Regions from separate parts of the Homo sapiens genome. Here region 1 is linked to region 2. The links come from fine-mapping of genetic effects on gene expression. A gene starts in region 2. The other region holds a variant in brackets. All regions are shown on one strand. Distances are from middle to middle.

The links. PIP is the estimated chance that this variant, and not a neighbour inherited with it, causes the effect.
Region 1: its variant is fine-mapped to the expression of HAR1B in anterior cingulate cortex (GTEx, PIP 0.97).

What each region holds. Positions count from the first base shown.
Region 1 is chr20:62,473,176-62,475,838 of GRCh38, forward strand. GATA5 (GATA binding protein 5) reads right to left here. Exons shown (of 7, transcript NM_080473.5): 2 at 1,824-2,367; 3 at 228-403. The coding sequence starts at 2,346. Among named protein-coding and RNA genes, the nearest start is that of GATA5, 1.5 kb to the right of the region's middle. RefSeq lists an enhancer at 428-1,088. The variant G/A (reference allele first, on the strand shown) is at 1,450.
Region 2 is chr20:63,100,932-63,103,931 of GRCh38, forward strand. HAR1B (highly accelerated region 1B) reads right to left here and starts at 1,388. Exons shown (of 3, transcript NR_152601.1): 1 at 1,184-1,388. It overlaps HAR1A (highly accelerated region 1A), which reads left to right and starts at 361. Exons shown (of 2, transcript NR_003244.2): 1 at 361-2,323; 2 at 2,624-3,000. RefSeq lists a silencer at 1,437-1,826.

The DNA.
Region 1 (2,663 bases), 630 kb before region 2:
AGCTGGTGGCCCCTGGCATCCCCACTGGGATCCCCTGCCCTGCCCTGAGCGCTCTCAAAGAAGACCTGAGCCGGCCTGACCTGACCCACCGGGGCGGGCACCCAGGCTGTTTTTGGGACACTCCCTACCCCCTACCCCAGGGGCTCTGGTGTCACCTGGGTGGATTGCAAGAGGTCCCCTCGGGGGAGCACTGCGCCCAGGCGCCCCTCTGCCCAGCCCGAACTCACCAGGCGCTTCTGAGGCCGAACGAGCGGCCGGTTGACGCCATTCATCTTGTGGTAGAGGCCGCAGGCATTGCACAGGTAGTGGCCGGTGCCGTCTCGGCGCCACAGCGGTGTGGACAGGGCCCCGCAGTTGACACACTCACGACCCTCACCCGGGAACTCCTCCAAGAAGTCGGACACTGAGGGGACAGGCAGCTGGTGGGCCCGGGCCCTCCCCTCCCCAGGATCCTCCCCAGCTCATGGGCCGGCACCCTCCCCTCCCCAGGAGCCTGGCGGCTTTCGTCAGACGAATAAACTTAAGGCACAAATCTTGTGCCTTAGATGTATTTTATTTTAAAATTTATTTGCTTACTTCATCTTATTTTTAAATTTTTAATTCACATACGATAAAATTCGCTAGGGTTGGTTTTTCGAGGATGGGGTGTTAATAAACAGAACCTGAAGACAGACACCTGGGACTCCCGGCTCCGGGACCGGGGGCCAGCACTGGCCTCTGCCTGTTTGACCTGCTGGGAAAGCAGGGTGTCTACACTGGCGGGGGAGGTGGATGAAGTGGTGTCTACACTGGCAGGGGAGGGATGAAGGGGCTTTATCTGGCAGACACTCTTGGGCGCCCCTGGGCTCTCCTGGGAACGCTAACCCCGCTGTCCTCCTGTTCTGCAAAGCGGGTCCATGACAGGGGTGGGGGGTTGGGAGGGTGGAGGAGGTGCCTTCTGTCAGCTTGGCTGTGGTCGCAACCAGTGTCCTTCCTTTAGAAGGCCAGCCCCGCCTCACAGCCCCCTGGGGCCGGGCTTCGCACACTGTGCGGCTGGGGGTGGAGGTCTTCCTGGTCCCCTCCAGGCCCGGCCCGGCGCCGGCGCGAGGGAGGCCCGGGCGCCGAGTGGGGGTGGGGCAGGGATCAATCATCGCCCCGCCGGGGGTGGGCGCCAGCAGCCGGGCTGTCCAGGGAGGCGGGGGCCAGGGGTCCTGCGGATGCCGCTGCGCCCGCTTCCTGCGCCAAAGGGCCGGCGGGGTCCCAAAGGCAGCTCCGGAGCTGGGTGTCGAGGCCTCCAAGGTCCCGGAGGGACGGGATGGGCCCCTGCGGAGCTCAGAGGAGCCGCCTTCGCCAGAAAGTGACTACGCTGCAACCGGGAAGAGCCGCTCCCCTCACAGGCCGAGAATCCGATTCTCCAAACTGATACTCGGGAAGCGACTGAAACCAGGTCTCAAATTAAAATCAGTAAAC[G/A]TCCTAGAACCGAGACGAATGTGGCCACTTAAATAAACCGATGTTTTGGGCTTTATAAAAATCGTTTCCAAAACTTTTCAAAAACAAAAACAAAAACGATTAAGACTTTTGAGGCTCCACATTGGCACAATCCGGAATGCTGTTTGGAAATAGATGTTCCTTCTCATTAACAGGTTAAAACAGAATTCTGGATGGGTGTTTCCCGTGCGGGGTGTTACCCAGGTTTACTCGTCTCGCCCCGGGGCTGCTGGTGTCGCTCCTGGCAGGGAGGCTCGGACCGTGGGGGAGGATGAGGGGAGCGTTTCGCAGGGTGCGGGTTTGCACCCGGATTCGGCCGCTCCTGGGCCCCGAGACTGTGGAGCCCCCGCACTCACCGAAGGTGGGCCTGCGGCCTGGGAGGCCGTGCAGGACGCTGCCATCGAAGGGCCCGGCAGTCCAGGACTGGGCCACGTCGGGGCTCACGTAGGCCGGGTAGGTGGCGGAGTACGAGGTCCCCACCGGCCGCCCAAGCGGGGCCGCGAACTGTTCTCGAGGCAACAGCGCGCCCTGGTAGGCACTGCCGTCTCGGCCCCCCGCGCTGCCGCCGCTGCCGGGCCCCGAGGGGCTGTGCGCGAAAGGGAAGGCGGTGGCCCCGGGCGGGTGCGCGGCTGGGGGGTGCGGACTGCCCGGGCCGAAGGCCGACGAATCCGCGGTGGCTGTCTGCGCCCAGCCGGGGCGCGCAGCGAGCTCGGGGGGCTGCGGGCTCGGCTCACACCCGGACAGGTAGGACAGCATCGAGGGGACGCGCGCCGGCGGCACAAACATCGGAGAGCCGGCGCCCGGAGCGTGCAGGAAGGAGCCCGAGTCGGCGTAGGCGGCCTGGCGGGGGCTCGCGGCCAGCGCCAGGCTCTGGTACATCCTCCCAGGCGTGGTCTTGACCTGCAGGGAAGAGGGACAGGTGTGGAGGTCACGGGAGCTCTGCGCCCTCCGCCAGCGCCCGAGCTTATGCCGGGCAGGTGCCGCCGCTTCGGGCAGCGCTTCCCAGTCCCCAGCCCGGGACGTTCGCGGGGCGGGTCCCCGAACCCGAGGGAGAGGAACCGCGGGGATGGGAGAGGCCAGCGCGTCATCCCCGGGGCAGTCACAACGCCGAGCCCACCTCCTCCCCGACCGGGCTTCGGAGGTCCCCGGGGTGAGCTCGGTGGGGGCCTGGGAAGGACGGGCCTGGCGCGGCCGCA
Region 2 (3,000 bases):
GGGCACCCTTGTGGGCTCAGCTTGGTCCAGGGTGTCCACTGGGGGACGGGGAGGGAGATGGAGCACCAGGGAAGAAGCGTCTCTTCATGTGGTCAGCGCCCCCTCCTTCTCCCCACTCCCTCCTTTTGCCTCCCTTCCTGCTGCTGCCTGCACGGTGAGAACAGAGATGAGATGGCCCCTGCCCGGGAGCAGTCAGCGGCACCACAACCCTCCCAGGCCAACCCAGCTCCTGACAGAGAGGGAGGGAGGCAGCCTGGGGCTGGGGGCCCTGGCAGCAGTGGCACACGGAGTGTGCACATGGATCCTAGTCAGCCTTTTGCAGGGCGCTGAAGCCAGTGGGGGCCCCCAGGGAGGTTTTGGGGGAGTGTTGAGGGGGCCTGAAGGGTTCCGCTCCTCCCACCCAGGGAACCGCCATGCCACTAGTGGGCTGTCCTGGAGACTCGGGGAGAAAGCACACAGGCTGTCGGGAAAGGTGGGTCGCAGGCGGGCAGGGCAGCCCTGCTGTACTGATGGGCAGGCGCTGGGTGGGTGGAAGGCAAAGCCATCAGGTCATCCCCCTCTCTGTCCCTGCATTGGGCCAACCAGGTGTGTCAGGAGGATATTTGACCATTCCTGAGAGGCACATTCTCTCTCTCTCTCTCTCTCTCCCTCTCTCTCTCTCCCTCTCTCTCTCCCTCTCTCCCTCTCTCTCCCTCTCTCTCCCTCTCTCTCCCTCTCCCTCTCTCTCTCCCTCTCCCTCTCTCCCCCCTCCCTCTCCCTCCCTCTCCCCCTCTCCCTCTCCCTCTCTCCCCCTCCCTCTCTCTCCCTCTCTCTCCCTCTCTCTCCCCCTCTCTCTCCCTCCTCTCTCTGTCACACACATTTGCACATCCTGCAGTGTGAATGGAGTATGAATGTGTGTGGTAGGCGACAGCTGTGTGTGTACGTCCGGGTGCGTGTGTGCGTGTGTACATGTGAGCGTGTGTGCACGTGAGTTAGAGCCTGAGTGTCCCCTGCGTGGGTTAGTGTGTGCGCCCGCCCGGTGCCCTCCGTCTTGGGAGTCTGGGCTGCTGCTCCGCGGGCTCTGGAGCCGGCGCTCCCCACGAGCCCGGACTCTCCGCCGCGCCCGGGAGCTGCGCAATCGGCTGCTAAGACGCCGGCGCCACCGGCTGGGCCCTGTTCTCCCCTCTCTTTTCTACAGTCTTACCCGCAGCTGACAGGGTTCGAAAGAGCATGAAACGGAGGAGACGTTACAGCAACGTGTCAGCTGAAATGATGGGCGTAGACGCACGTCAGCGGCGGAAATGGTTTCTATCAAAATGAAAGTGTTTAGAGATTTTCCTCAAGTTTCAAATGAGGCGAATCCCGTTTTCCGCGATGCTGCAGCGCGCGGGTTTTAACCGCAGGGTCACGCGGAACGCCGCGCCGCGCGACTGTGCCTCGGTCTCTGCGCCCGGCTCTCCCTCCGGTCCGCAAGAGGAGGAAGGCCCGCGGCGTGCCGAGGTCAGCGGCGCGGAGCCACCAGGCGAGACGGTCACGGACGCCTGAACCGAGGTCACCGAGGCCACGGGGCCGGGAGGCCCTCAGCAGAGCCCGGGGGCTCCGCACCTCAAGGCCGGCCAGGAAGAAACAGCAGCAGGAGCCCAGGGCGCCCCGGGGAGCCCCCGACACGCGGGCCGAGCGCCCAGAGCGGCCCAGGCCCTCGCGAGGAGACCGGCCTCCCCAGGGCGGGGCTTCCGACTCGGGCGCCCGTGAGCCCCGGAGGCGGCGCGAAGGGGCAGAGTCCGCGTTTCTAACCAGCCCCCGGGTGGGCGGTGGCCCGCGCGGCACGGTGGGCGCGAGCGCCGTGGGCTGGGGCCGGCCTGGGCTTTCAGGGCGAGGGCTTTCCGCGCCGGCCCCAGCCCACCCGGCCCCGCTGCGCGCCCCTCACGCTGCAGCCTGGGAACCTGGGCCGGGAGCTGCGGGCCGCTCCGGGGAAGCGGGCCTGACCTCCCCTCCCCACCGCCGCCCCTGCGGTGAGATCCTGCCTGCCGGGGCGCAGGGGCCCGCGGTTGGGCTCCGGGAGACGGAAGAGGCCCCACAGCTCGGGCCCCACGCAGTGGACGCTGCCACTTAATTTTGGCGTAATTGATGTCAAGGCGGGTGCCCGGGCCCCCAGTGAAATGCCTCATGAACTCGCTGCGAGGAACGGCGCTCCACGCGGTGCACGGTGGCCAATCAGAGCTGCCGCTTCTGATGGAGGCTGAGCCGGCTGGGGAGGCGTCTTGGCCAAGAACCAGCCCCAGCCTCGCTCAGGGCCCCAACCCGCAGACCATGTAATTAAGCTGCGTTCTGCAGCCAGGGCAAGGTGCGGAGGGGCCTGTTTCTAGCATTGGGGAGGAGGAAGTGGGGAGGAGGGAGCGGGGAGGAAGGAGTGGGGAGGAGGGAGCGGGGAGGAAGGAGGAGTGGGGAGGAGGGAGCGGGGAGGAGGGAGCGGGGAGGAAGGAGTGGGGAGGAGGGAGCGGGGAGGAAGGAGGAGTGGGGAGGAGGGAGCGGGGAGGAAGGAGGAAGGAGCGGGGAGCAGAGGAGCAGAGCGGGAGGGAGGATCGTCGTGCAGGGGGCCTTTGTGGATGAGGCTGGGATGTCCCTGCCCCTCCGTTCCCTCCAGAGTCTCAGCTCTGAACATCTTCCCGCACCTCTGAGGAGCCAGGCCTGGAAACCCTCTAAAATAGATTTTTCTGCCTCAAGACAGAAGATGGGCGTTCCAGGCAGAGAAGAGCTGCCCAGTCACGTGCTCTGCTCCACCTGGTCAGAGACCCTTGACCTTTAGAAGACTGGACCTGAGGGCGTGGCTGGTGGACCTGAGGGCGTGGATGGTGGACCTGGCCACCCAGCTGTAGCTTTTTGGGTTCCTGTGGTCCCATTTCTTGGGTCAATCTCACACCTGGCAGCTCCCAGGAAGACACCCCCAGGCCCCTCACACTCCTGGGGGCAGCTGGAATTGGCTTCAGGGCGGGACCAGGGGCCCCATGGGTGTTTGGAATC